4 linked regions of the Homo sapiens genome follow. The protein of the gene in region 1 interacts with the protein of each later gene in a pairwise test. Each region holds a gene or a part of one and is shown in the gene's direction. Other genes may lie near its edges. The genes, in order: SLC10A1, C2, MAL and SLC38A1.

Region 1 (6,468 bases):
GTAAACTGAGAAGTTCATTAGCTAATAAGTCTTTTAATAAAACTTGAAGCACATGGTTATTCAAGAGATGTGTGAAAGTCCTTCCTATGCTGGGATAGGACCACTAATTGGTATAGGTGATGTTTTATATGATCATATCAGTTGCAACAAGTATTAAAAACAGAAACACAAAGCTGTGCAGCTGAAATTTGAGCAATATAAATGTTAAAATGTCGTTAGGACATTATGAATGTACTTAATGCCACTGAACTGTACACTCAAAAGTGATTAAAATGGCAAACTTTGCTATACATATTTTACTTTTTTAAAATGTTACTAGGAAATATAAAATGCAACACATGTGAATGAACCAAAAAATGAACCAACACATGTAACTATTACAAAATAACATGGTAAGTTTGAGAAAAGTTAAGTATTTCTTTACTCAGGAGATAAAAGGGACAGTCTTAAATTTACACATACCTGTTTATCATTTTGGAGGACGCAATTCTCTAAAATGCACACTGGAAAGTACAAAGTGCATGGAGTGCACATGCACTTTGAAAGGTTGCATCCTATGTTGCACAATGAAAAACCCTATAATTTCATTCAGAGTAGACCTGCATAGTTTCCAATGATGTTGTTATCACCCAAGATATTTCTGAAAGTTCTTTTGGGAACTTCCTTCATATTCAATTTGCAGGTCACTCAAGAAAGTAGGTTTGTCCCCTTATTATTAGACATCATTTTGGGTTTAAAACCGTATTTCCGGGCTTGATCATCCACCTTGTTTACCAGCTTTGTTTCAAATGACTCTTGGCAATTTCCAGAATTGATCCTAAAATGGATAAAATCCCTATCTGTAATCAAGGTATTTGAGACAAATATGTATGACAAGTTCTCATGAGTTTCAAAGTATGTGGAACAATGACAGTATTGTAGGAATGTGTATATAAGTTCCAAAAATACTTGACTTTTAAATAATATCCATTTTGCAGGAGTCCTGAATAGCCTCACGTAACACTTCACTGAAAGTCTGCTATCCAGAGATGTGTCAAAAGCAGTAACTGTGCTTGGCTGAGTTTGTAATAATCAAAGTGTTAATCAGCTGTCCCCAAGCTTCCTAGCTACTGATACGAAATCTAAAAAGATGGGCTGGGTGCAGTGGCTCACACCTGTAATCCCAGCACTTTGGAAGGCCAAGGCAGGAGGACCGCTAAGAGTCCAGGAGTAAGACCAGCCTGGGCAACATAGTAAGACCCTGTCTCTAATGTTAATAATTTTAAAAAAATTTAAAGAAAGGAATCCAAAAAGAAGATAAAGGTCTTTCATATTCCTTTCCACTTCCAGTGTTTTATTGCAATGTTTCCCACCTCCAATTTCTACCTGTGCTTCCCCACCTCTGTTCCTCTCTATCCCCAACTCTTCTAATTGCCTTTTCTTGTCTTCATTCCCAGGGAGGGATGATCATCATTCTCTTGTGCAGTGTGGCCGTCACAGTTCTCTCTGCCATCAATGTGGGGAAGAGCATCATGTTTGCCATGACACCACTCTTGATTGCCACCTCCTCCCTGATGCCTTTTATTGGCTTTCTGCTGGGTTATGTTCTCTCTGCTCTCTTCTGCCTCAATGGACGGTAGGTATTTTTTTTTTTTTTAAGAAAGGGTCTCACTCTGTTGCCCAGGCTGGAGGGGAGTAGCACATTCTCAGCTCACTGCAGCCTCAACCTCCAGGGTTTAACTGATCCTCCTGCCTCAGCCCCCCAAGTAACTGGGACTATAGGCACAAGCCACCATGACCAGCTGATTTAACTTTTCTGGAGACAGGGTTTTACCATGTTGCCCAGGCTAGTTTTGAACTAATGAGCTCAAGTGATCCACCTGCCTCAGCCTTCCAAAGTGCTAGGATTACAGGTGTGAGCCACTGCATGCCTGGAGATAGGTATTATTTTAGGTCCCACTGTCCCATGGGCTTCATTCTTGTCCTAGTCTTTCAGGAAACGAATAAGAAGCTAGGAACCTGAAATCTGGGCAAGACACTTTCCTGGCAATATGTTCAGATGCACTAACTGGACAAGAGACTTTAGACTTGAAAAAAATTGAATGAAGGTATTGAACGGGTTAAAAATCCAGACACCAAAGGTATCCAAACACCAGCAGCAATAGCAAAGTACCCCTGTCCAGGGTCTAGATTCCATCTGCTGCGAAACTCTTTGGTAGCAGCACTGGGACAAAGTTGCTCCCTCCAGTTCCCTCTGAGTGTATGTGGGGTTTTCTTCACCGGCACAGGTGCAGACGCACTGTCAGCATGGAGACTGGATGCCAAAATGTCCAACTCTGTTCCACCATCCTCAATGTGGCCTTTCCACCTGAAGTCATTGGACCACTTTTCTTCTTTCCCCTCCTCTACATGATTTTCCAGCTTGGAGAAGGGCTTCTCCTCATTGCCATATTTTGGTGCTATGAGAAATTCAAGACTCCCAAGGGTGAGTACTGAAATTATCCCCACTTCAAGTTCTGCTCCAATATTAGACCTGAGCCTGCCAACAAGCAAGTTTCTAGCAGGGACTTTTTGGATAGGGCTTTAACTCTTATCAAGTCACTAAGAACCAGGTAGCCCCAAGAAGCACCCAAGAAGCATTAAAGATCCAAGACTACTTCCATCAACTGCACTCCATTTCTTCCTTCTAGCTGGGAGAATGAAATTGCAGATGCAGTTTACCTCATAAAACTGAAGCAATTTGGGCTGCTTTGTCTCAGTGGGGAGACATCATAGGACAAAACTGCCTTGGACAACTGAGGTTATTAGTTGTGTGAAAGGCCTCTATTCGCAAGAGTTGGGGAAGTTTCCATTTCTCAGGACTAGGTTCTCATTTCCTGGAACCAGATCAGAGCCACAGCACCACTGGCACCTCCGTATGAGGAAAAACATATGAAAGCAATGCACCCTAATATAACCCAGAATAAAGAAAAAAAAAAAAGATTCCTCAACTCTAGTTACGCAGTAAAGGAAACTTAAGCATACGGTTGTTAAACAGTAACTACCTCCACAATAAACTTAATATGATTTATACTTTACTCTGATCACTATGGGGTTAACATAGCATCTCTTCTCTAAAATGCTCAGAGTATTACCTTTCAAAATAAAATTGAACCTCAAGACAGACCAGAGAACAGAGTGCCTTCCTCAAAGTGCACTTTAACACCAATTTTAAAAAAAAAAAAAAAAAAAAAAAAAAACAGGACATTCAAACCCACTTTATAACACATTTCATTATAACTCTCAACATTAGTATATTCTTCCTAAGTACCTACCCAAATCCTTCAACTGTCCCTTCATGTCCATGAATTGAAGTCCCCTTCAAAACCTTTCTAGACCCTAGGGACTGTGATTTACACCCTAGGAGAAATACACAACTTTCCCTATTGGAATTTGTTACATTATACTAGCAAGCAAATGCCGATTCTCTCTCCCTTTGCAATTAGCTAAGATGTAATTAGGTTGCCAAGCAGCCAACACGAAACAAGTACAGGCTGACCATACACTAGAACCATTTTAGAAGCTTTGGTTCAAAGCTACAGTAGAGTTGTGAGAAAGAATCTACTCTGATGCTTATCTGAGAGGAACGCAAGAGATTTGCTGCCCTCTTACAAAAAGTGCACAGAAGTTTCTAGACCAACCAAATTCCCAGATTTGAGGTTTTAGTACCAGAAAGACCTGAAGTGACCTCAAAGGACAATACTCTATGGATCTTTAGCTCTCAAGACTTGAAAAGAACTTTCCTCACAGTGTATCTCAGAAGACCCCAGTGGAAACACTAAATCAAAGCAACGTATTTCTTTGGACCTAATGGCCCCAAGAAGCTATTCTCAGGGGGGAGGAATCTGTCAAGTTTTTATACTTTTCATTCCTGCACCTGATGGGAGAACAACTCTGTATAGAGAACTCTCCCATCTGTATAGAAAGGTGCAGGAATCAAAGCTATCTTCAAATTTGCATCACCGCCTACACCACGGACAAGAAGAGGTAGATCAATTGGGGGTTGGAGGGAAGAACTGGAAACTCTCTTGGTTAGACTTTCTCGAAGATCTTTCCTGCCTGCCTCCTCATTCCCTGAATGCAACACAGACCTTGCATACATAAACTCATCTCCTGTTGTTTTACTGTATAACGAAGTTAGAAGTGAAGTGATGATGAAGACACAATAGTCTAATTCATTAGGACTTTTACTACTAGTACTACCATTAGGGAGACTGAGGGGAAAGTGAGTTTAAAGAGTAAACCATGGGAGAGACGACAGAGATGGAAAATATATACTTAGCACACTCTAGGGCTGAGTTGGTATTTTTGTACTTTCCAGATTAAACAAGCTTCATTGTTCACTCCTCTTGTTCTCTCTCTACACCTGTAACCCTTTTTAACTTTACAGATAAAACAAAAATGATCTACACAGCTGCCACAACTGAAGAAACAATTCCAGGAGCTCTGGGAAATGGCACCTACAAAGGGGAGGACTGCTCCCCTTGCACAGCCTAGCCCTTCCCCTGGTGGCCTGGATTCTGGTCCCAAAGCAATTCTGAAAGCCAGTGTGGTAAACTAGAGAGAGCAGCAAAAACACCAGTCTTGCCTGAGTCTTTCTCCAGCATTTCCAGTACATCTATCAGAATCATCAAGTCTTGGCCGGGAACACAGACAGGGTGTCTACCCAAGAAGCCTCACCTATCCCCAACTTAGAATTTGCTACTTATTTTAAAGACTTGTTCAGTGACTGTAAACTCTATGAAACCAGAAACCGAATCTGCCTCTTGCTGGGATCTCTAAAAGTGTCTGATAAGCATCTTAAAGTCACTCAATTCCTGAACTAATCAATATATATGTTTAACCCATTACTCAAATACCCAAATCCCATTCCAAGTTTTGTGACCCAAAAGAGAAATAAATGCTCACAAGTGCTGTAGAATTAAACTTCAGAAGTTCTAACCTAAAAAGTTCAGATCCTATTCCTTCCCTTTTGACATTATTGGGATGATGCTCCCGAAAAGTCAAATTTGACATCAAGTATGCAAAAGTGAACACAGTAAGATGCAATCAGGCAAAACAAACTCAAAAAATAGCTAATGAAATGAAAAAACTGGGCGAATGCATCATGTTAGTAGAGGAGGAAAACTTTTGACAAGGAAAAACCAGGAAACAAACACATACATTAACACAATGTTACCTCACTAATAATCTCTTTTTTAAGTTCAGTAGGTATTTGGTTTTAACACAAGGCGCCCCCAAAACTGGGTACAGCAAACTACTGCCAAAATGAGTCGTTTCCCAATTCAAAGAAAAATGTTCAAATACCTAGAATTCACAAATTTCAAATTGTCTCTAATAAAATTTAAACATTTTGCATATCATATGTAAATAAGGATCAAGTAAATGATTAACAACTAATATTAACAATTACAAAAAGTCAATCATGCTTATTAGTTACTTGGGATTTTTATCATTTTGTATGGTCAGGTACAAATGAAACCAAGACAATATAGTTTTCGGGTATCAGTTTGGCAAATGTGCAGGACTAACAAGTACTCCCAACACCAAAACGAGAAACACAGATTTGGGTTACTAACATCCTCTTAAAAACGCAGATTTTTGACAAGGCTACCACCTATCATTTTTACTTATTATATCCATATATACCTACCTGTTCAAATTGTTTTCTCTATTATCTAACCAACATCATCTGCTAGGAGACTTGGTTACATACAAGTTATGTAAGAACACATTTGTTTAGCTTTTGAGGAAGACAGGGTTGGCCTCAAACCATTCTTAGAAAGGAATAAAGATGGCCGGATGCAGTAGTTCACACCTGTAATCCCAGCACTTTGGGAGGCCGAGTCGGGCAGATCATGAGGTCAAGTGATTGAGACCATCCTGGCCAAAATGGTGAAACCCCATCTCTACTAAAAATACAAAAATTAGCCAGGCATGGTGGCACACACCTGTAGTCCCAGCTACTCGGGAGGCTGAGGCAGGAGAATCACTTGAACCCCAGAAGCAGAGGTTGCAGTGAGCCGAGATAGCACCACCGCGCTCCATCCAACCTAGCAACAGAGCAAGACCCTGTCTAAAAAAAAAAAAAAAAAGCAAGGAATAAAGATGAAACTAATATAAACATAGAAAACAAAGGTTAAACCATGCCCTACAAAGGCAGGTCCTAAACCTTTCCTTAGGATTACATCCACACTCCTCATGGTATCTGAAGCCTGGTTTTGAGAGTCCCTTTTTGAGACATAATTGTTATCTCCCTGCCATTTTTTTCAAAAGAAGGAATTTATCGTACTCCCTAACACCTCTAAGATTAAAAGTAGCTTAATTCTTGGCTGGGCACAGTGGCTCACACCTGTAATCCCAACACTTTGGGAGGCCAAGGCAGGCAGATAGATTATTTGGAGTCAGGAGTTCAAGACCAGCTTGGCCAACATGGTCAAACCTCATCTC
Region 2 (8,137 bases), on another chromosome or scaffold:
GGCTTTTGAATGGTACAAGAAATAGAGAAGCCAAGGTCGCCCTCATCTGGTGGGGTCTACTGAAAAGCTAATCGGGAGTGCCGAGGGGAATAAAGGTCTGGCATCTTTAGCCCCACAGGTCAGGTCATGGTCCTTCCACATTCGACTGGGCCTCCTGGAGAGCTGACAGTGGACTATAACTGACTTTTTGCCAATGGAATATGAATGGAAGAGTGGGGTGGGAGGCAGACTTGATGGAGACCCTGTTTCAACCATGCAGACAAGGACAATTTCCAAAGGCATGAACCACAGATGGAAGGAAGCTGGAGGCCTGAAGGAGGCTGATGAGCAGCTCTGCCAGCCAGGGCCACACACGCCATCTCAGCCTTGTCTGCTTACCCTGAGCCTCTTATTTTGTTTTTATTTTTTTTTTGTTGAGATGGAGTCTTGCTCTGTCACCCAGGCTGGAGTGCAGTGGCACGATCTCCGCTCACTGCAAGCTCCATCTCCCGGGTTCACGCCATTCGCCTGCCTCAGCCTCCCGAGTAGCTGGGACTACAGGCGCCGCCACCACACCCAGCTAATTTTTTTTTTTTTGTAGTTTTAGTAGAGACAGGGTTTCACCATGTTAGCCAGGATGGTCTCGATCTCCTGACCTCGTGATCCGCCCGCCTCGGCCTCCCAAAGTGCTGGGATTACAGGCGTAAGCCACCGCACCCGGCCTCTGAGGCTCTTATTTATTTATTTTTTTTGAGATGGAGTCTCGCTCTGTCTCCCAGGCTGGAGTGCAGTAGCGCGATCTCAGCTCACTGCAAACTCTGCCTCCCGGGTTCCTGCCATTCTCCTGCCTCAGCCTCCCGAGTAGCTGGGACTACAGGCGCCTGCCACCGCGCCCGGCTAATTATTTGTATTTTTTAGTAGAGACGGGGTTTCACCGTGTTAGCCAGGATTGTCTCGATCTCCTGACCTTGTGATCCACCCGCCTCGGCCTCCCAAAGTGCTGGGATTACAGGCGTGAACCACCGCGCCCGGCCTCTGAGGCTCTTATTTGAAAGTGCAGCAAAATTCTATCTTATTTAAGTTACTGTATTTTAGGGTCTCTTTATTACAGAAGTTTAACGTGTATCCTAATAAACACACTTCTCTGAGTGTTGCCTTTGGCTCTCACATTGATTTCTTGCTAGGTATATCAGTTAGACATGGTTTGGCTTTGTTATAACCAAGCTAGAATAACAGCAGCTTAAATGGTCTGAGCATAAGTGGTCCAGGTCAATCCTATTAGCTCTACAGGATTGGAGAGCAGGGCCTCTTTAATTTTGTTTCTTTATCATCATCCACATGTGACTTCCATTTTGTGATCTAGGTGGCTGTTCCAGAGTCCACCATTCTGTCCACATTCCAGCTGGTGGGAAGGGAAGAAGTTTTATACATTGAGGAGTAAACACTTCTCCTTAAGAACATACTCTGTGGGCCCAGAAAACTTGGGAGTTTTATTACTTAAGCAGGAAGAGAGAATGAATTCTGCCACACTGTGCCAAGTTGATGTAGCTCAACAAATACTGGGAAAAACTCATGAAAGAAAGGCCCTTTCTTTTGAAGGCAGCTGTTACATATTAGTTTGATGGCTTTAAAAGGCACCCAAAGTTTAGTGATTTGAATGTTCAGTCAGGTTAGGCTTCATTACGTTCTGGTAACCAACAACCTAGAAATATTTGTTGCCATAGGAGGGCTTACAAAATATAGCCATCAGTCTCTCCTATTCTGATGTGCCTGCCCCTTTGCCGTGTGACTTTGCCATTCCTCCTATCAAGAGGTAAATTCTATGCCTCCAGTCTTAAATCTGGGCTGACCTTGTGATTTGCTTTGACCAATAGAATGTGGCAGAAGTGATGTTATGTGACTTTTGGGGCTAGGCCTCGAGAGACCTTGCAGCTTATGTTTTGGATTCCTCAGAAGTTGTCCTGAGACTGCCATGCTATGAGGGCTAGGGAGGAAGGACCTGCTGTCCTACTGTTAACTGAACTCAGCCCCTAGCTGACTGCCGCTGCATGGAAGATCAGCAGAAGAACCTTCTGGCCAATATGAGAAAGAATAAATCATTTTTAAATTTCCTACATATTGGGTGGGTACTTTTTTTCCTGCATTAGTAGAAATGCAATGAATTAAAATAACAAAGGTTTATTTTTTGGTCATATTACTTATCCACTGAGAGTCAGCCGAGTATTGCGCTTTTTTTTTCTTTTTTGAGACAGAGTCTCCCTATGTCACCCAGGCTGAAGTGCAGTGGTGTGATCTCGGCTCACTGCAATCTCTGCCTCCCGGGTTCAAGCGATTCTCCTACCTCAACCTCCTGAGCAGCTGGGATTACAGGCGTATGCCACCACGCCCAGCTAATTTTTGTATTTTTAGTAGAGATGGGGTTTCACCATGTTGGTCAGGCTGGTCTCTAACTCCTGAACTCAGGTGATCCCCCTGCCTCGGCCTCCCAAAGTGCTGGGATTACAGGTGTGAGCCACTGTGCCCGGCTGGTACTGTGCTTTCGATATCACCCAGGGATCTTGGCTGGTGGAGCAGCCACCATCTCAGACGTTACCATACAGAGGGGAAGAGCAGGGTGAAGACTACATTGAGCTTCCATCAGGAAGTGATACATATCACTTGTACTCACATCTTATTGGCTAAAACAAGTGGCTGGGGAAATCCTATCCTACCATGTGATTGAAAGAAGACAAGGCTACAGTATTTGTGAACATCCTTAAATACCCCCCACCTTTACGATAGTTTATTTCTCTCTTGTAACAATCTAAGTGGCTGTGCAGGGCTGGTATGACATCAACACTGTGTCAGACACCCAGGCTCCTCTGTCTGTTTGCTCTGTCATCCCCAGCATGTTGCCCTCATCCTCCTGGTGGAAGACGGATCTCCGCTAGGTTTATATTCCAGCCCATGAAAAGAAAAGGCACACTGCCTTTTTATTTTAGGGACATAACTTGGAAATGACATACATAAGTTCTACTAACATCCCATTAGCCAGAACCAAGTCACCTGGCTACCTAGCTGCAAGGGAAGCTAGGAAATATGGTCTTTAGCTGGGTGACTGTGTGTTCCCCTAACCATCTCTTACTGTGGAAGGAGGGAGAAAAGATACTTGAGGGGCAGGGGAGGCACTAGCAGCTCTGCCACAGCAGCCACTTTGGAGTCCCTAACACCAGGATGTCCTGATTTTCATGCACTTAGCCCTGTCCAAGGGGAGTCTCAATTTGTGTACTCTTTTTTTTTTTTTTGAGACAGAGTCTTGCTCTTGTCACCCAGGCTGGAATGCAGTGGCATGATCTTGGCTCACTGCAACCTCTGCCTCCCGGGTTCAAGTGATTCTCCTGCCTCAGCCTCCCGAGTAGCTGGGATTACAGGCCCCTGCCACCACACCCGGCTAATTTTTTGTAATTTTAGTAGAGACGGGGTTTCACCATGTTGGCCGGGCTGGTCTCAAATTCCTGACCTCATGATCCACCCGCCTCAGCCTCCCAAAATGCTGGGATTACAGGCGTGAGTCACTGTGCCCGGTCTTATTTTTTTTTTTTCTTTTTGAGATGTAGTCTTACTCTGTTGCCCAGGCTGGAGTGCAGTGGCACAATCTTGGCTCACTGCAACCTCCATCTTCTAGGTTCAATCAGTTCTCTAAGGACTCACTTATAAATCAAAAGGGTTTTTACGAACCTAAATGATCACTTCAGAGAGGTTTCATGTTCATTTTTTTATTGGTCTTATTTATTTTTACCCTACATTGTTCAAAAAGGTATTGAAAAGACTTCTGTGGGTCAGGGAGACTAACACACTAGCTTCAAGTTTCTTTGCTTCCTGCATTTCATACAAGTGTAGGTTATGATTTAAAGGCATATCCCAGCCCCCGCAAAAGTTTTATTCCTTTGAGTAACCAACCCCAAATGTATTTACTTTGCCAGTTGGGAATTTCATCTACTAGACTTTCCGTAAAAATGTTGTAAACATTTTTCCTGTCTCCAAAACTAAGTGTTGATTTCATTTTTTCCACCTAGATTATCTCTAGGGAAGGATTGTAGGGAATAAAAAAGTATTGTCAATCTTCCTATTTATCAAGAAGTTCTAAAAAAATTAGTTTCACCCCCCTCGGAAGTTTATCTTCAAGAAGACAGAACTGTTCTAGGCTCTCAGGAAGTAAAACCCACTTGGTACAACCCAAAAGAACACTAAAACTTTACTTAAATGAAATATTTTGCAATATCTTGGATGGTTTGTGGGTTTGTGTGCTTTAGACTATTGACTATTCACACAAGAGCAAGGTGCATGTGTGCACACACGAGCCCAAATATGTGTTTGCCTGCGTGTTTGTGAGCATGCGTGTATGGTGCACATGTGCACGCATGGGTGGGTGGAGCGTGGGGGCAGTACACAAAGCCTGTGGGGGAGATCTATTGACCCTATAGATATATTAGCATCAGGGAGACAGGGCAAAGGTTTCACCCTTCAGTTCAGTCCCCAATCCCTGCTTATTATTTCCCTAACAGAAGACCATCCCCCTTGCCACTCCCTGGTTTTTCTTCTCTGGCAGCAATGAAGCAGCTGCTGACCCAGCTCTAGTTTTCGGGAAGTCAGATGACCTTTTCCCTCCCGCGGCTCTCTACCTCTCGCCGCCCCTAGGGAGGACACCATGGGCCCACTGATGGTTCTTTTTTGCCTGCTGTTCCTGTACCCAGGTAGGAGGCAGGGAAGGGGGAACGTCAGGGTCCTGTGTGTGAGGTTGGTGCTCCCAGCTTGAATTCCCATGTGTGAAACAGTCTCTTTTGCTTTCCTTTTCTCATCTGTGTCTTCCTTCTTTCTCCATTGCTGTCTCCTTGTTCCCACGGCTCTAGGTCTGGCAGACTCGGCTCCCTCCTGCCCTCAGAACGTGAATATCTCGGGTGGCACCTTCACCCTCAGCCATGGCTGGGCTCCTGGGAGCCTTCTCACCTACTCCTGCCCCCAGGGCCTGTACCCATCCCCAGCATCACGGCTGTGCAAGAGCAGCGGACAGTGGCAGACCCCAGGAGCCACCCGGTCTCTGTCTAAGGCGGTCTGCAAACGTGAGGCTCCCTGTGGGCTTTGCTCAGGGTGCTACACCAGGGGCCACCCCAGAACTTTTGTTTAGGAGTTGCTCAGGGTGGGACTTAACCTGACTAGATGGCAAAGTTGCTTTTGCAGAGGGCTTTTCAAAATATCCAGAAAATGTCAATTGCCAGTAGCAAGGAATTGGGAACAGGTCTTGATGGAGACTGTGGGGTACTAAAGCCAGGGATGACTTTTTATGTACAATTGACTGCCTAGTAGTGACCATTCAGAACAGATGCTGAATGGTCCTGGAGTCCTCTAGACATCTGAGGATCCCAAGGGGAGTGTCTGGGGAGGCCACGGCCCTCAGGAGACTGAGGGAAGTGGCTATTTATCAATCAGTTCGCTTAGACTCTGTGAAATTGGCAATATTCAATCAGTTGCCAAAAACAGCAATTTCACATGTTGCAACCTAATATTTCAGTGTTTTGACAGCCAGTTGACCATTCCCATGCATTCCAGCATAAAATCACCTGCTTAATCCCCAGCCCAGGTGTTATCCATCCAGTCCTATATTCCCCACCCACTTCCTCTCTCTCCAGCTGTGCGCTGTCCAGCCCCTGTCTCCTTTGAGAATGGCATTTATACCCCACGGCTGGGGTCCTATCCCGTGGGTGGCAATGTGAGCTTCGAGTGTGAGGATGGCTTCATATTGCGGGGCTCGCCTGTGCGTCAGTGTCGCCCCAACGGCATGTGGGATGGAGAAACAGCTGTGTGTGATAATGGGGGTGAGTTCTCTGGCTGATGGGCTACACAGGGGGCTGGGGTCTCCTGGGGAACCCTGGGGCCCAATGTGCATCCAGGAAGCCTCTGTGGGGATAGGAGTCTGTTGTTCAGTGTGCCATAATAATATTCCTGGATTTTGGTAAATTGAGGTCTACAGGTCACACATCACAAGTCTGCAAGGGCCAGGCCCCAGGCAGCTGGTGCTAAGCTTCAGATGTAGCATAAAGCCTCCACACACTCTGCCTGGCTTTTCTAAGTGCCTCAAAGCAAGACTTCATATTCAGGCCCCACAGATTGTTGTAGGGAAGATATGCTGGGAGAGAGTCAAGTACTGTGCTTTAATGCCTTGCCTTTAAAGCCAGGTTTGGGTTCCAAGCCCTACTCTGACTTTGACAGACTTTGGGAAGGCTATTTAACCTTTCTAGCCCTCAGTTTTCCCATCTGTAAGACAAGGATAGTGAGTGCTGACCTGAGATTGCCATCTGGATTAAATGAGTTGACATTAGTAAGCATATACAACAGCCCTGGAGTGCGGTGGCTCACGCCTGTAATCCCAGCACTTTGGGAGGCCAAGGGGGGTGGATCACAAGGTCAGGAGTTTGAGACCAGCTTGGCCAACATGGTGAAACCCCGTCTCTAGTAAAAATACAAAAATTAGCCGGGTGCGGTGGCGCATGCCTGTAATACCAGCTATTCAGGAGGCTGAGGCAGGAGAATCATTTGAACCAGGAAGTGGAGATTGCAGTGAGCCGAGATTGCATCATTGCACTCCAGCCTGAGTGACAGAGTAAGACTCTGTCTCAAAAAAAAAAAAAAAAAAAAAAAATGCCAGCCTCGGTGCCTCACGCCTGTAATCCCAGCACTTTGGGAGGCTGAGGTGGGTGGATCACCTGAGGTCAGGAGATTGAGACCAGCCTGGTCAACGTGGTGAAACCTCGTCTATACTAAAAATACAAAAATTAGCTGGGCGTGGTTAATCCCAGCTACTCAGGAGGCTGAGGCAGGAGAATCACTTGAACCTGGGAGGCAGAGGTTGCAGTGAGCCGAGATCGTGCCACTGCACTCCAGCCTGGGTGACAGAGTGAGACTCTGTCTCAAAACAAACAAACAAACAAACAAACAAAAAACAAAAAAAACAGCCCCTGGAATCTGATAAATGCCATGTACACTTTTTTTTTTTTTTGAGACGGAGTCTAGCTCTTGTTGCCCAGGCTGGAGTGCAATGGCGCAATCTCAGCTCACCGCAACATCTGCCTCCCGGGTTCAAGTGACTCTCCTGCCTCAGCCTCCCAAGAAGCTGGGATTACAGGCATGCGCCACCATGCCTCGGTAATTTTCTATTCTTAGTAGGGACAGGGTTTCTCCATGTTGGCCAGGCTGGTCTCAAACTCCTGACCTCAGGGGATTCTGCCCACCTTGGCCTCCCAAAGTGCTGGGATTACAGGCGTGAGCCACGGCATCCGGCCTTGTTTTTGTTTCTTTAAGAGACAGGATCTCGCTGTGTTGCCAAGGCTGGCTTCAAACTCCTGAGCTCAAGTGATCTTCCTACCTCAGCCTCCTCAGTAGCTGGGAATGCAGGCATGTGCCACCACACCTGGCCATAAGCACTTTTGTCATAGTTATTGCTGCCCCTGTGAATGGTGAGGGGCTCTGCTTGGCAGAAGTAGGGCTCCTAGGATTCCCTGGAGCTGCATTTGCCTGTGGGTTTGGGAGCTTCTTGGATCATGGTTCTTAGCACATCATACAGAAGACACGGAGTCCACAAGATGGCAGGACCACCTTCACCTAGTGGCCCAGACCATGGATCCCCACTCATGCCCTTGGGTTTTGGCAAATGGCCATTTATTCTGTAGGAGGGTGAAGTAGATGCCTGGTAAGACTGTGATAAGTAATGCTTGAATTATTAGACGTGACTCTAACTTATTTTAAAATTGAGGCATAATTTACCTATTGTAAAATGTACAAATCTTAACTATTCAGCTCAATGATTTGTTACAATGCATCCACTCATCTAATCACCACCCAAGACAGAATGAGGTTCCCTCTTGTCCCCTCCCACAAGGTAACTGCTCTTCTGACCTCTGTCTCCATGGACTAGGTACCTTGTGCTTACATTTCCTGTAAATGGAATCATGCGGGATGTGGTCTGTTGCTTCTGGCATCCTTTGTTCTATATTCTGCCTGTGAGATTTATCCATGCTGTTGTGTGTATCAGTACTTTGTTCTTTTTTATTGCTGTGTAGTATTCCATTATATGGGTATATTACAATTTATCCATTCCCCTCCTGATGGACATTTGGATTATTTC
Region 3 (8,142 bases), on another chromosome or scaffold:
ATCACCTGAGGTCAGGAGTTCGAGACCAGACTGACCAACATGGTGAAACCCCATCTCTACTAAAAATACAAAAAAAAAAAAAAAAAAAAAAAACCCGGCTTGGGTGGCTCATGCCTGTAGTCCCAGCTACTCAGCAGGCTAAGGCATGAGCATCGCTTGAACCTGGGAGGCAGAGGTTGCAGTAAGCCGAGATCATGCCGCTGCACTCCAGCCTGGGCAACAGAGTGAGACTCGGTCTCAAAAAAATAAATTAATAAGTAAATAAATTAAATAAATAGAAAGAAAGAAATCACAATGAGATACCACTTCACACCCATTAGGATGGCTACTATCCAAAAAACGGAAAACATCAAGTATTGGATGTGGAGAAATTGGAACCCTTGGTATGCCACTGGCGGGAATGTGAAATGGTTCAGCCACTGTGGAAAACAGTTTGGTGTTCCCTCAAAAAATTACCCTCTGACCCAGCAATTCCACTCCTGGGTATATAACCAAAGGATTCCAAGCAGGGACTTTAGTATTGGCACATGCATGTTCATAGCAGCAGTCTTCACAATAACACACAGCCCAGTGGCCATCAGCAATGAACTGAATAACAAAGTGCGACATATCCAAACAATGGATACTACCTGACCATAGAAAGGAATGAAGTACTGATACGTGCTACAAAGTTGATAAACCTTGAAAACTCTATGCTAAGCAAAAGACACAAGGCACAAAATGTCATATAGTGTATGATTCCGTTTATATAAAATACTGGAATAGATAAATCCATAGAGACAGAACACAAACCCTGGTGGTTTGCCAGGGACCAAGGGGAGCAATTGTTTAATCGCTATGTGGTTTCTTTTTGGGGGTAATGAAAATGCTTTGGAATTAGATTGAGTTGGTGGGTGCACAACACCATGAATGTACTAAATGCCACTGAACTGTCAACTTAAAATGATTGGTTTGATGATATGTGAATTTCACCTCAAGTTTAAAAAACAAAAAATAGAAATATTTCAAATGCCACAGAAGAACATATACAATACTTTAACAGACACCTACATAATTATTGCCCAACTTTGTCAAATCTTAATATTTTGCCTTGTTTGCTGTTATGTATTAAGGAAATGAAGCTTTCAGATGGCATCTAAGCCTCCTAGACATCCTTCTGTTATCTTATTCTCTCTCTCCCTCCGTCCTCAGGGCCACCTGTAGGCTGAATGTGGTGTTCACTTCCAAGCACAGGTTAGACTTTTACTGCACACATATGAACTACACATGGCATTGTTTTACATGTTTTCGCACTTTATGAAAATGCCAGCATACAGTACGTATCCTTCTGCAACATGCTTTCCAGGCAACATTATGTTCTGAGATTTATACATGTTGACTTTGTTTACCCAGTCTTCTGTTAATAGACACTTTGGATAGTTCCAATTTGCTGCCTTTAGCTATTGCAGACAGCATTGCTAAGAACATTCTCATATTTGCCTCTGTAGTTACCTGTTGGAAATGTCTCCCAGAGACACTTGGAGGATGTGACTTGTTGGGTCACAGGGGATATGCACATTGTCATTTTCCCAGGTGTTATCACATTGCCGTCCAAAAGAGTAATTCCAATTTACACACCCCAGGAGCAGATTTACTGGGAAGCTGATGTTTAATTAAGTTCAAGACCCCTACTTACTCAAGCCCCTTCCAAGACTCTGCCTAATTTTGTATTCTCTTATAAAGATGGTCCTCCTGATTGTTTAAGCTTCAGGCTAAACCTGGACCTTCCCCGGCCCCTACCAGCAGCACATGAAAGTCGCCATTGTTCCTCATCACTTGGTAGCGTCAGACTTTATAATTTTCTGCTAGTCCAATGGGTGTGAAATGCTTGATTATTTTTTAAATCTGTAGTCCACTGAGTTGTTGATGACTCATAGTTCAGATTCCCATGCCTGACCTCCCAACAGCCTGGGAGGCGCAGATGTCCAAGCTGATCCGGGTGGAGCGCCACTTCCATGGTGAGGGGACTGCCCACTGGAGCAAGTGAGGGTGGCAGCTCAGGGTGGGGCATAGCAACCTCTCCTTGGCCCAGCACCCCTATCCCAGACCTCCTGACCTCTGAAAGCTGCAGAGTCCTCACAGGAAGAGGAAGGCAGGCCCAACTAGGAAGTGAGACTGCCTTTCCAAATACCTCCAGAGCCACAGAGGCTGTGCCCCTATTGCAGGTGGTGTGGTCATCAGTGCAGCCCCATATAGGCCAAGGGTGAAATAGCCAATGCTCTCCCCTCCTCCAACAAAACCCAGGGCTTTGCTTCTCGTCTGCTCCCCTGCAAAAGTCCCACCCAGTGAGGAACTTTTCCTTTTGGAGCCACTCTCTGTCTCTGTCTCCGTCTCCATTCTAAGCCAGGGACTTCCTTGACACTGGGCCACCATTCAGGGAATGAAAGGTTCACAGGGAAGGCTTTCTGTCTCAGCTGGGGCCCCCAGATGCGAGGTCTCCCACAGAGTGCCAGGAGAGACCCCCTACCCATTCAGGACTTGTGAAGGAAGTGCCTGAAGAGGGTTGTGAGATCATCTACTCAGCCCCCTCCTCCCCAGGCCACAAAGGAGGCAGGGTTGTGAGTGAGGGTGTGAGGAATGCCGCCCAGCCCTCCAGGGGCATGCCCTTCCTCCTCTGTGCCTCAGAAACACGAACAGAAGTGCAGTCACATCACGGGTTGGGGTTGGGGTGGGGAGACACCCGCAATCAGTTTGCAGTTTTGACAGTTACAGTGAACTGGACAGAGTAATGACTAAAATGACACCTTTTCTGTGACCCAAAGTGACTGGACTGTTATTAAGAGTGACCAGAGAGGTCTGGGGACTTCTGCTAGATTTCTACCTGGCTGGGGAATAGCCAGCCCGACAGAGCCGGGACTGGGCCATGGGCCAGCGAGGCAGTTTCGCATTAGGTGGTCCAAGCTGTGGCTGCACTGAGAAGGTGGCATGGGAACTCCTAGGAGACCAGAGACGTAGAATGACAGAAACCTCACTTTCAGAGCTGGCAGGGAACTGAGGCTCAGACAGGGAGCAACTTGCCTGGGTCACCGGGTCTCCAGGGTCCAGTGAGCACTTCTGGCAGTGAGCAGATCATGCCCAGGCTTCTCCTTTCACCTAATCAGCCACACGAGATTTTGCTTGCACTAGAAGGCACACTGGGATCCTGAGTAGGCAGCCCTGCCCACCTGGCAGCTCTGGGCAAGGCTTGGTCCCTTCTCTCCCCCAACAGGAATGAAGGGACAGCTCAGGACCACTGGGAAGCTCACACCTCCTCTGGGTCTCCTTGTCAAAAACACACCCTGCAGGTTCTGAGTCACGAGGTCCAGGGCAGGTTGAAGAACCCGCATTGCACTGCACACCCTCCACTGACTGGCTGAGACTTGGAGCGGACATCTCGAGGCCAGGCCACCCTCTTGATATTTTTATGGGGGATAGAATAGTGGGAACAGTTCTCAGGGAGAGGCTGGGGCAAGCAGCCAGGTGCTCTGAGGTTCTCACAAGTCAGACCAGGGACCTCCTCTGTTCTGGAGAAAGTTCCCTGCTGTGCTAGCTAGGAGCCTCTCCTACAGGCACCAGGGAGTGGGGCAGGCCCCGCTTGGCCAGAATGGGATGGTGGCTGAGTTGGCCTTCTCTGACTGTGTCCACTGGCTCCTGGCTCTGTCCCTTCTCTGTAGCTATTTAGAGAGGGCTACTGCCTGATCTTCCGTGTTTTCTCCTCTCTTCCTCTCTAAAGGGAGGAGAAGTGTTCTAGACAGAGATTTCACAGGGGTTTGGTGGAGAAGTGACTTTTCTGGTTTTTCAAGACCAGAGGCTGGCTTTGGTGAGGACTCAGTAACTTTGAGCTGCTCCCTGGAAACTGCTAAGTGTGATGATGGGGCTCATCTCCACAGGATTGTCAGACATGTGTCATCACACCTGAGCTATATTTTAAAAGATTGCCTTTTAGCTTTTCATAAGTCACTCCCCCACCTCACAGGGATGGGGCAATGCCAGAACTGGTGCAAAGGCACCCTTTCTGTCCCAGTGCTTTCAGAAGTGAGTAGGAAGCCCCACGATGCTGCTGCCAGCAGCGCTCACACTCAGGTCGGCCAGGGACAAGGGCTGAATTTTGCACCTATACTCGCCACACCAGCAGGCGAGGGGCAGAGCATATTGTGCTGCCAGCACAGACTAGCTCTGCACAGCCTTAGCAGTGGCTTGGCTTTGTCCTGGGCCCAGACACATTCTCCAGAGAAGGGGCTGGGAGTAGGGACTGGACCACCTGGGACCTGCCTTGACACAGGACAGAGCCAGCCAGACTTGAACTAGAAGGGGCTGGGGGCTGACTTAAGCCACTCCAGGGCTTCCTCCTGGCCCCTCCAGTGTCAGTGCCGGACATGGTGCTTTGGACCAGCAGGCCTCAGGGACAGGTGCTGATAGGACACCCCAGAGGGTGTACCCTCCTGGTGTTGATGGGTGTGAGGACAGTGGGGGACTGTGCCCCTTGTCCTTGAAGCAGGAACGTTCTGGGGTGTGTGGCCAGCTCCTTCTCACAGCTTTCAGATTGTTCCCAAGGGCATGGAGCATGGAGCAGGTCCCTCGTGGTCTCTCATCAATTTGGAAGGCTCCAAATTGCCTTTGACACCCTGGTGAAAGGTTTGATACCCAGTGAGCTCCTAGCTGGGCATGAGCAGTGTAGCCATTTCCCTTCTTGGGGTCATGAACGTGCCACACTCTGCTTCTCTGCAGCACTTCTCCCCAGGCTCTCTGCCGCTGCTACCTCATTCACAGCTAGTGTTCTATGCCAGGATTGGGTGAATCATTTTAATGTACCCGGGCCCTGGGTCCTGCAAAACATATGTAGGAAATCAAAGGAAAGCCTGTCACCAGCCACAGCACCTCCGCAGCGGGAAGAGAAGGTGCAGGGTCGCACAGCCAGCCTCACTGACCTGCAGTTCCTGGCCACAGCCTCCAGTCCCTGTGAGAATGCAGTGGGCTGGGAGGGGAGGGGCTGGAAGGGCAGGGGGAGGAGACAGAAAGTGAAGGTCCCAGAACCAACTTGGAGGGAGGCCCACGGGGGGCCCGGGAGGTGGGCACTCCAGGAATAGGGCCACGGGGAAGGACAGAAGATGACGTTCCCTGACCTGTCAGTGGAGTGGGGCGGGTGGGGTCTGCATGGCAGCCCCTCCCTCTTCTTCAGACTGAACTACAGGCCTGCATCTGCCGAAGAGGGAGCGGGATCCTTTGGCATTTCATCTTGTGCTGTATGTGTCTTAAACACAAACCTTGCTATTGTTTTCCTCTGAAGAAACAGAGGATATTGAGACTCATTGTTTCAGTGGCGGGCCAGGGAGGGAGAAGCCGGCTGGGAGTGGCCTAAAGACTAAGTGGTTATTCGCCACTTAGTTAACATGGAGGAGGCTCCATGTTAACGCGCCTGTAATCCTGGCACTCTGGGAGGTCAAGGTGAGAGGATCACTTGAGGTCAGGAGTTTGAGATCAGCCTGGGCAACATAGCAAGACCCCATTTCTACAAAAAATGTAAACAATTAGCCAACTATGATGGCTTGCACCCATAGTCCCAGCTACTCAGGAGGCTGGGATGGGAGGATTGCTTGAGCCTGGAGGTCAAGGCTGTAGTGAGCTGTGATCGCATCACTGCCCTCCAGTGTGGGTGACAGAGTGAGAACCTGTCATCAAAACAAAAATCTCATGGCCATTTCCAAAGCTGACCCTAGACACAAGAGGTAACTGTCACACCCATGGGGGCCTGGATCTGGGCCTCAGCCAGCTCATCAAAGGAGCACCCGGCAGCTGTGGGAACGTGGGCAGGTAACTGTGCCTCAGTTTCTGCATCAGTAAAATTTGGACATAGCAGCACCTGCCTCACATAGCTACTGCCCCATAGCTATCAAGTGCTGTTATTATTAGTTGACTAATAATTTAAGCATCTGCTCTGAAACCAACTGGCCGACCTGTGCCGATGGCAGGGTCCGCAAGGCCCGCCCCCATCACCTTTGCCATAGGTGCCCTCTGTTCCATTCTCAGGCAGGTGCTGCATGAGGATTGGGATTGGGCCAGGCTGTGGAGGGCACACTTGACTTTTCCCTGGAGTCACCGAGTCCTGCACAGACACCACCTTCCTGGGGCCTTCCCAGTGGCTCTCCTCTCACCAAGAAGGAACAACTGAGGGCAGAGGTCAGTGTGTCCTCAGCTAAGAGCTTGATGGAGCAGCCAAGGGGTGGAGGACAGTGTGGCAGCCCCAGCCTGCCTTCTGCCCAGGGAGCAGGCTGCTTTCTAAGCCTCTCTGCATCACCCTGCCAGCCTGGTGCCAAGATGGGCAGGCAGAGCTTTGTGGATTCTGAGTGTGACACATAGCTACATCTGCCCGCAGGCGTAGGAATGAATTATCAGCAGGCTCAGATTAAAGCTTTCAAAAGCGATTTGTCATCAGTGTCAGTGTGTCGGCTGTATGCAAGGGCATCAGTTCAGGGAGGGGGCAGCCTCTGGCAAAAACCTGTGCCCTCACCTCCCCCAGCCTCCATCCTGGCCCCCAGCTGCTTGGCAGGAGGGCATAGTTGGATTGAGGGGCCTGGCAGGAAAGGAACCGCCGAGCTTATGGGTCTCAGGACTATTTCTAAAACCAGCCACAGACCTCCTTCATCTCCATCTGTGGTCAGGTTGGGGGCAGCAGTGGGAATGCTTCTTTGTTGGAGGTGACCCTTTAGGCCCGAGCTAACCCATCCCCTCCACCGGGAAGCCCACCCTTCTAGCACCCTTTCCTGGCACTCAGAGCACATCCTGCAGACCTTTGCTTATTGTCTGTCTCGTGCCTACACCCTAAGTCTGCCCACATCCCTGGCACAGATCAAGAACTCTGAAACATTTGTTCTCAGCAAGCATCGGTAGGGAAGGGGCTCGGGTCTCCTCTCTCACCTACCTAACACTGATGAATCATAAGATGAGTCCTTGACCTCAAAGGCGGACAGAGGGTGAAACTGACAAAGGCTGCCAGTCCCCAAGAGACTCTGGGAGTTCCATCTCCCTTGGACCCTCCCAGACCCTGGGCGGGCAGCCTTCTGTCGCCTCTGGCAGGTGTACACCTGTTTTGTTGGTTTGTTCACATTACTAACCTACCTGGTGACTCCCATAAATCCCTTTTGTTTTTCTTGCATTTAAGCCACTCCTGTCTGGTCCAGCATTTCCACGGATTTTGCCTTTTACAGGTGGCTTACCCAGTATTTTCACAGAACCTCTTGGTTTCTGTTTATCCTGCTGGGTAAGGCCAGCAGGTGTAGATGTGGTAGGCAGAATTTTCCATTCAAATGAAGACATGCCTATCAGAAAGCCCCTAGATTTGTGGATCTGAGAGGAGTTTTTGTGCATTCAGGAACTAGTGACCATCCTCTAGCTCATGAGGGAGGTGGGTGTTAAGTCAGCAGTCACTTTGTCCTGCTGGCAGCGTGTGCTATGGGAGAGGCTTCCCTGGGGCTCAAGGGGGGTGAGATTGCAAGCCTGAACAGGGGGCTCTTCCCAGTCCAACTTGCCTTGTTAATATAAACTATGGCCCTCCACTCAGCTCTTAGATTTTTTTTTTTTTTTTTTTTGAGACAGAGTCTTGCTCTGTCGCCCAGGCTGGAGTGCAGTGGCATGATCTCGGCTCACTGCAACCTCTGCCTCCTGGGCTCACGCCATTCTCCTGCCTCAGCCTCCTGAGTAGCTGGGACTACAGGCGCCCACCACCACACCCGGCTAATTTTTTGTATTTTTAGTAGAGACGGGGTTTCACCGTGTTAGCCAGGATAGTCTCAATCTCCTGACCTCGTGATCCGCTCACCTCAGCCTCCCCAAGTGCTGGGATTACAGGCGTGAGCCACCGTGCCCAGCAACAGCTCTTCGATCTTTTAATCCCAAATCTCTATCCCCTTCTTCACAAACTGATCCAAACCCGCTGAGTCCTGCTCTTGCCTTCAGATTAGATAAGGAACACTGTCTAAGGCTAGCTGGGGGTGATGATGGCATGAGGGGTCCCTCTGGGAGGAAGAAGCCTGCTAATGAAGAGGCCAGGAGGGGAGAGTGACTGGTGTAGGTAAACCAAGTCAGGTCCCAGCCCCGCTCCCAGGGTTCTCTTTGGTAGCAGTCCCA
Region 4 (8,142 bases), on another chromosome or scaffold:
TTACTGTGCGACTGGCAGCAACTAACAAGATTTGTTTCACCTTCTATGAAGCTTCCGTTCTCAGGGGGAAATAGACTATATAAATGTAGGCATATACATTTCAGGTATTCTTAGTGCAATGAAGAAATAAAACAGGATCATGTGATGGGGGAGGATGCTTGAAATAGAGTGACTCACCGGGAGGGGCGGTGTGAGGGTATAACATTTGTCCTCAGACCCGAATGATGAAAAGGGATCAGCTATTTCCATAATTGAGGGAAGAAGGCCAGCGGAAGGAACAGGAAGAAGGAACAGCAAGTACTTATTGCACTCTTCTTTGACTGTAATATAATTGAACAGATAGATGAATAGATTTTAAAGGTGTTTTGGAGCTTTAAACCTATATGTATGTTGTTTATGTATATTTTTTATGATGCTTCATGAATTAAGGCCATTTAATGAAAGGAGCACCATGTTTCTGATATCTGACTATTGCTACTCTTTTCTTTACTCTGGGTGATGCTTGTGGACAAAAACCGATTTTACTCATTGTTCCTCTAATGTCCAGCACATAGTACCTGCTTAATAAATACTTGTTGGATCGAGACCTTGAGACCTTGATCAGGCCATCTTGTTCATCTCTTTGTGATATTATTGGCCATCCCTTCCGTTCTATATCTCATCTGTTCCCCTTCTCCTAAGTTTGAAAATGAGAGTCTTTTTCTTCTCTGCTTCTCCTTCTCGTACTGCCCTTCCCACTTTGAGCAGTGACCAGGCCCTTGAAAATACCCCTCACACTTGTCCTCTTGTCTCCATTTCCACTGCCCAAGTTCAGGTCCCTGTCACCTTACCTAGACTTGGAGACATATGAAACAGATATAGAGGTGCCTTGAACAACCTAGGGGCAGTGGGAGTGGGCGGTGGAGAAAAATGCAAGCACAACATATGGTTAAGAGTGAAACAGCCAGTTACTGAGGTGGAACAGCTTTCCTGTTGGTCTCTCCTCCATATCAAGTTATGCTCCCCTAATTAAATCTCCATTCTTTCATGAGGTTTATATTTCTAAAATTCAGTTCACATTTTGTTAAAGGACCTTGCTTTTAAAAACCTCTGAGGGTTTCCATTGCACACAAATACAGTCTAAATTCCTTAGCCATACACTTAGGACCCTTCACAATCTGCCTTCTCATCTCTTTCCAATTTTTTCTCTTGATATTTTCTTTCTCACAGTTCACCCTATTCCCTCCCTATCACTTTTCTGCTTCAATATCTGTGTGGATTGGATTCCAGTCCAGAATGCCTACTGAAATCCTGTGTACTTGTGATGGCCTATCCCTGATGCCACTTTTCCACCTCTTGGGAGAAGTGTTCACTGATCACCTCACTGGCATTTTCATAAGTATTTGTTTATCCTTCACATTTTGGACTGTTGTTACTCCAGGTGATGGAAGGTGGTGAATAGGGGCTTAGGCTCTGAGTCAAATATAAATATCAGGCCTCAGCTTACTCACCCAGGAATCTTGGGCAAGGTGTTTGGCATCTCTAAGCCTCAGTTTTTTCTTTTGCTAAATGGGAATGATGATGCTGGTGGTAGTGTTGGTGGTACCCACTTTACTGAGTGATGGTAAAGATTTAATGAAGATAATGAATGTGAAGTATTTGGTATAGTGTTAGCATTCCATATGTATTGAATTAAACATATCTACCAGAGGAGGGAGAGAAAGTTGATCAGTAAAGTTCCCTTTACCTCTGAAATTCTGTGACTATGTAATCTTTTAAAAATACTTTTCTGAAAATATATCTTGATGGAAACTACCTGGATCTTTTTAGTCTCTGGGAGAATATACATCTATGAAAGGTGGTGAGGAGGTAGGAGAAGTATGTGCACAGAAGTACTTTGAAGAATGTGTGACAGACTTCGAAAAAGACATCTTGTATGCAAAGGCACACAGAGTAATATAATGGACTGTGGAGACTCAGAAGCCAGAGGTTGGAAGGGAGGATGCCAGATAAAAAGCTACAGATTGGGTACAATGTGTACTACTCAGATGACAAGTGCACTAAAGTCTCAGATTTCATCACTTTCAATTCATTTATATAACCACCAAAAATCACTGATACCCCAAAATCTATTGAAATAAAAAAATTTTAAGTAAAATTAAAAGATTAACTTCAATAACCTAAAAAAAGACACTGACCCTAGATTTAAAATAAGATTTTAAATTTAAAAATATTGTTGTACTTATTTCTGAAAATTGATCACATATTTGTTTTCTAGTGATAACCTTACTAATAACAGAGGAGTTCCCCTAACCATGTTACCTTCCCAATCACTGAATTCCTCTACTATTAGTAAGTAACTCTGTTTCAAGTGAGGTTACAATGTGTCTTTGGCAATAACTAGCTGGGTACCCTTGAGCAACTCATTTCACATTTTTATGCCTCATTTTCTCATCTGTCCAATGCTAATAATAGTATCAGTGCTGCGTACCTCAGAGTTGTGAAGATACAATGAGAGCAGAGCTGAGAAAGTCCTTGAACAAGTTTAAAAAAACTATTCAAGATGATAGTCATCTGGCATTAAGCATGCTGCTAATCTTCAGGGTCAGGTGATGGTTTTAGATTAGTGAGTCTCAGAGCAGACTTCACATTAGACTCATCTAGGGTGTTTTAAAAGCTGTCAGTGCCAAGACTTCAACTCCAGAGATTCAGATTTAGTTGGCCTGGGATGGAGCCCAAATATGGGAGCTTAGAAAATATCAGGGGTGATTTTGATATGCATTGGTTTAGATTTAAAGCAAGGAAAACAAAACAAACATCAGAAATTAAATGAGGACCTCCATATGTTGCTTGACAAAGTCTTAGTCTTAGTAGTGTGAAATTATGAGCTTGACTGACTTTTCCCCCTGATTTTACTAAACCAACCATTTGTTGACATCATGGAGCCACAGCCTCAGGTTACAGTTTATAACCTGAATTTTCCCAGGCATAGACGCCTGTCCAGTGATACAGCCAGAGCCACATGAAGATTTAATGTGTAGATCTCAGTTTCCATCTCTTAGGAATGGCGAAGGTTGGAAAAGAAAGCGACAATGGAAAGGAAAAAGAAAGGGATAGGCTATGGACCAAGGTATAGGAGAAAGAGGCTCTGAGCAGGAGACAGACAGGTCAGAGCACAGAGAAAACACTGTGTTTAATTTATTGAACCGGTTTTGTTTAGGTTGCAAACTGGTGGCTAGAGAGCCAAATTAAGCTTGTGGGCATATTTTATGTGACTTACGCTTTCTTTTAAAATTATTTGAAATTAGTTGCCAACTCTTAAATATCAGAATTTCACTTAGAATTTTGATTTCTGGCATTTATTGAAAAACATAAAAATAAAAAGACCAGGCTCATTCCTGCCACTAGTTGGAGGGAAATAGATGGGACATGTGTTCTCTAGTTCCTTATGCCCAGTCTGCTTTGCCCATTTATCTTACCTACCTGAGCACTAGCTTCTTTTGTTTTAACTTTTATTCTCAATCTGGGGATCTTAACATTGGCTGCACATAAGAATGCTCTCCTCTGGAGAGCGTTTAAAATAACCATGCTTGGATCCTGTCCTATACCAATTAAGTCAGAGACTGTTGTGTGTGTAGTGTCCCCTTATCACTTTTATTTTTTTAAAGCTCCCCAGTTTGTTCCAATGTCCTGTTAGAACTGAGGCCTATTGGCCTACAAAGGCAACTATTCAAGAGATTTGTCTACAAGTCCACCTTCTTATCTTTGGAAGTGATTCATTAAGAAATAGTGTATAGAATCATTAATTCAGAGAACTGGGAGAGGTCTTTGAGAGAGCAGCCATTAATCCAATCTTCTTATTTTAAGGTGAGGAGACAGAGACCCAGAGAGGAGAAAGGAATTGTTCTGAGACTGTAACCATCATCTGGTATTGAATTATATAGTGTCTTTTATTACATTTTCTCTTTTCAAATAAAAGTCTATTTTTAAGATTTCTTTTTATAAATGATCCTCTTTATATGCAGCACTTTGTGATGCTTTAAAGTTCTTATTATTTCTGTTTTTCCTTGAGTATTTTGTTAGGAGTCATAACTTAGCTAGGGCTTAAAAACAAACACACAAAACTGTATCCATCTTTTTTAGTACAATAGCAATCCTTGATCAGAAATATCTTTAGAACAAAAAACATATATGCAAATAAAGAGATTTTTCTCAAGGGCTGAAATATTCCAGGCTGTTTTCAACTGCATGAGTTTTTAGTAATTATTTAAATCCATTAATTTTCAATTGACAAGAAATATTTTTAATTTTGTTGGTATTCACACTACTCATATACACTCACTGTTCTAATTAATTAAGATTCAATTCTTTTGGTGTTTTTTTTTTAAATGTAATATACAGTCTGTCCTCCTATATCCAGTTATAGGTTGACTTCATTAACTTTAGAGTTTATTTTTTCTGTCTTGAATAAATTGGAATTGTTTCAAAATTTCTGATATAGATAGGTTAGTTACCAACATCATAAGCTGGTCATGTTGATAACAGACATTTAAAAGATCATATGGGAACTTGAAGACAAGAGGAATTATGGAACGATTAAGAGCAGGTTTTGGGATCCTGTTAAGATAGGATGCACTGGGCAATTTGTCCAAGGAAGTTAGCGGTTCATCTCCATGCCCCACAAAGAGGGGGTCCATACTCATCCCCTGTGAGCTTCTGTAACACAGGGCTTCTTGCCCTTCACACTACTGGCATTTGGGGCCAGACAGCTCTTTGTTGTGTGTGGCTGTCCTGTGCATTGTATGATGTTTACCAGCATCCCTGGTCTTTCTCAACTAGATGCCTGCAGCACCCCCTCACTTACTGCAACCCAAAATGTCTCCAGGCATTGCCAAATACCTCCTGGGGGCAGGGAGAGGGACACAATTGTCCCCAGTTGAGAACCACTTCTTTAATACAACTCCTTCTCTGGACTTTTAGAAATCATGCCAAGAATTCTTAAACATTCCAAGCATAGTGGCTGGGACAGTAATGATAAATACCTTCCGTTTATATAGTTCTTTACAATACTAAATGCATTTTTACATAAATCCCACACGCCCAGATCAAATGTAAAGGAGATCAGGTGGTAAACTTAATGAAAACTATGAGGTAGGGCTATCCACATTGCTTCATGTTCCCATTTTTGTTTTGTTTTCCATGGGAAGATGGTGTTTGTGATGCTCACTGAATATATTGTCTGCAGGCAGGTGATCATAGCTTTCTTTTTAAATTTAGTCCTCATTTTTATTGTTAACATGTGTTTACTGTCACCATATACTAGACCTTTGAGATGTATGGTCCTTGTCCCCAAGGAATTGAAATTGTAAATAAAAAGATTACTGAAATATGAGCCCCCTTGCTATAAGCCAGTGAGTAATCTACACGAAACTGCTGTAAGAATTCATCACAGGTAAACAGTCAAGCAGGTTCTCAACTGGAACAATTATGTCCCTCTCCCTGCCCCCAGGAGGTATTTGGCAATGCCTGCGTTGGTCATTGGAGAAAGGCATCACAGAAGAGTTGGCTTGAATTTTTTAAAAAAGCAAGCAAGCTGGGCTTTGAAAGAAAGGTCATACTTAAGTTAGCATAGGCTTCATGGGAAGGTGGAGAGGGTGTGTCCAGGATCAGGGGGATGGTGTGAACAAAGCAGAAAACTGCATAAGAGTAGACCCATTGCAGGAATGGAAAATTAGAAGGAATATAGTGGGAGCATAAATTAAAGAGAAAGCTGTCTGAGGTTCTAGAGATTAGACCTCATCCTGTAGAGGGAACAGTTATGATTGGCAAGGCAGAAAGAGGAATGTGCAAGACTGTCTTTTCAGGAAGAATCTGCCTCTATAGGTGGGAGAGGGCAAGAAGCAGGAGGTAGCGTGGCGGAGAGTGACTGTGGCAAAGTTCAGGCTGTGAAACTGTAAGGAATAAGGGAAAGGAAAAGGATTTTGTGAAGGAATGTTGGCAGGACTTGGCAACTGATTAGATATGAGGTTGTATGAAAGCCATACTCAAGTTTCAAGTCTGAGTGACAAGGAGAAGGTGCATTATATCTTTAACAGAAATAGAATGCTGGCATGTGAGGTCAGGTGATGCGTTCTGCTTCAGGCATGTGGAATCTGAGGTAATGATAAACATCCTAATGGAGCAGTCCAGAAGGCAGCAGGAGTCTGAAAAGAATTTATGGAAATGTTTCTGAGAAGGAAAGAACCTGAGAGATAACCTCTCTTTCATGCCCTCTCATTTTACAGATGAAGAAACATGTGACATGTTAAGTGGCATGATCATGATCAAGTTGTATTTATGAGGGAGATCCTATTTCATAACGCAAAGGAATTCTAGTTTTATAAAGTGAAAAAGACTGGGAAGAAAGATCTGAAAGATGCCTTTGTAGAATGAAACTTGACACTACAGCCCTGAAGCCCTAAAAAGGAAAGAATTTGGAATATGTGGAGCAAGAAGAGTCGAGGCCCAAAGAGCTACTTCTACACAGAAAGTTGGGAGGAGGAGGGATCTGGCAGAGGAGACCAAGAAGGTCTTGGGAGGATGCAGTGTGGAGTTATTTGGGAGAAGTCAGAAAACAGGAACAATGGTCACAATAATTTACAAAACCCGGGCCAGACGCTGTTCTAAGTGCTGCACATGGACCAAGTCATGGAATCTTTATGACTGTATCAGATGGGTATTGCTTTAAGTCCATTTTACAGATGAGGAAACTAAGGCAAAGAGAAGTTAACCTTCTTTCCTGGGGCTACACAGCTTCTAAGTGGTGGAGCCAGAATTTCCTAATCAGGCATGATTTCAGGGGAGTGGTGGCAGGAGCAAGTAGTTTAGAGACTGCTAGCAGTAAAGAGAGGGGTGTGATGATAGTTCAAGGTTCTAGACAGAGTTATGTTCCAGATAAAGAGCTCTGAGGATGATGGATGTCAAGAAGGGAAGGCAGAGAGAGGAAGTAGAGAAACAAGGTCCTAGCAGAAGAGCCAGGACCTTAAGCACAGGTTAAACCATTAGTCTTGGGCAAGAAGAGAGTAAAACCACTTATTTTTCTGAGACCACTTACTAGCTTCCCAGGTTTTTCACTACCAAAGGCCATTTTTATTATTCCCCACCTTCCAAAAGCCCCAGATTTTCAAAGATTTTGATGATCGGCTTTAATTTTTTATTTTAATTAAAGTATAAATTATATGCAATGCAGTGTCCAGATATTAAGTATACTATTTAATGAGTTTTGAGTGTTGACTTTAATATATTAATTCATTTCCCATTTTTATTACTCAAAGGTATATAAAATTGCCAATCAAATTTAGGATTATCACATCAAGTTAATGAAGCCTTGCTAACAGTATGGATACCTCACCATTTAGTTAACCTGTTTAGCCTGTTTGAGGCCTTTTGAAATATAGATCCATGTTAGTTCTTAGATCCTTATCACTATCATCTATGAACCCTGAGGATCCAAGAACCCCAAGTGGGTAAACAGACACAGTCAGTTATGGGACTAGCTGGCCCGGAATTATAGAACCATTGTTGACCTTAGGCTTAACACTTTCTCCGCTTTAAAAATTATATGTATTTAAGGTGTGCAACGTGATGTTTTGGTATACATATGCGTGGTAAAATGGTTACTAGAGTCAAGAAAATTAATATATCCATCATCTCACGTGGTCACTTCTTTTTTGTGGCAAGAGCACCTAGAATCCACTCTTTTAGCAAAAATCCCATATATATAATACAATATTACAGGTTGAGCATCCCTAATCCAAAAATCCAAAACCCTGGCTGGGCACAGTGGCTCACGCCTGTAATCCCAGCACTTTGGGAGGTTGAGTTAGGTGGATCATCTAAGGTTAGGAGTTCAAGACCAGCCTGGCCAACATAGTGAAACCCCATCTCCACTGAAAATATAAAAATTAGCTGGGCATGGTGGCATGTGCCTGTAATTCCAGGTACTCGGGAGGCCGAAGCAGGAGATTCTCTTGAATCTGGGAGGCGGAGGTTGCAGTGAGCAGAGATCTCATCACTACACTCCAGCCTGGGTGACAGAGTGAGATTTCATCTCAATAAATAAATAAATAAACACATTTTAAAAAGTCCAAAACCCACAAAAGTCCAAAACTTAAAACTCTGAGC

Evidence for each region.
Region 2: the proteins of SLC10A1 (region 1) and C2 interact in binary tests that used the Homo sapiens proteins (3 or more experiments, as listed by UniProt).
Region 3: the proteins of SLC10A1 (region 1) and MAL interact in binary tests that used the Homo sapiens proteins (3 or more experiments, as listed by UniProt).
Region 4: the proteins of SLC10A1 (region 1) and SLC38A1 interact in binary tests that used the Homo sapiens proteins (3 or more experiments, as listed by UniProt).

The regions. Positions count from the first base shown.
Region 1 is NC_000014.9:69,774,329-69,780,796, reverse strand, and holds the end of SLC10A1 (hepatic sodium/bile acid cotransporter), read left to right. Parts: intron 1-1,436; coding exon 1,437-1,615; intron 1,616-2,267; coding exon 2,268-2,464; intron 2,465-4,408; coding exon 4,409-4,515; 3' UTR 4,516-5,381; downstream 5,382-6,468. UniProt on the Homo sapiens protein: As a major transporter of conjugated bile salts from plasma into the hepatocyte, it plays a key role in the enterohepatic circulation of bile salts necessary for the solubilization and absorption of dietary fat and fat-soluble vitamins.
Region 2 is NC_000006.12:31,923,087-31,931,223, forward strand, and holds the start of C2 (complement C2 isoform 1 preproprotein), read left to right. Parts: upstream 1-4,630; 5' UTR 4,631-4,666; coding exon 4,667-4,712; intron 4,713-4,868; coding exon 4,869-5,078; coding exon of another isoform or gene 5,079-5,106; intron 5,107-5,645; coding exon 5,646-5,831; intron 5,832-8,137.
Region 3 is NC_000002.12:95,028,084-95,036,225, forward strand, and holds part of MAL (myelin and lymphocyte protein), read left to right. Parts: intron 1-8,142. UniProt on the Homo sapiens protein: May be involved in vesicular trafficking from the Golgi apparatus to the cell membrane. Plays a role in the maintenance of the myelin sheath, and in axon-glia and glia-glia interactions.
Region 4 is NC_000012.12:46,258,601-46,266,742, reverse strand, and holds part of SLC38A1 (sodium-coupled neutral amino acid symporter 1), read left to right. Parts: intron 1-226; exon of another isoform or gene 227-297; intron 298-8,142. UniProt on the Homo sapiens protein: Symporter that cotransports short-chain neutral amino acids and sodium ions from the extraccellular to the intracellular side of the cell membrane. The transport is elctrogenic, pH dependent and driven by the Na(+) electrochemical gradient.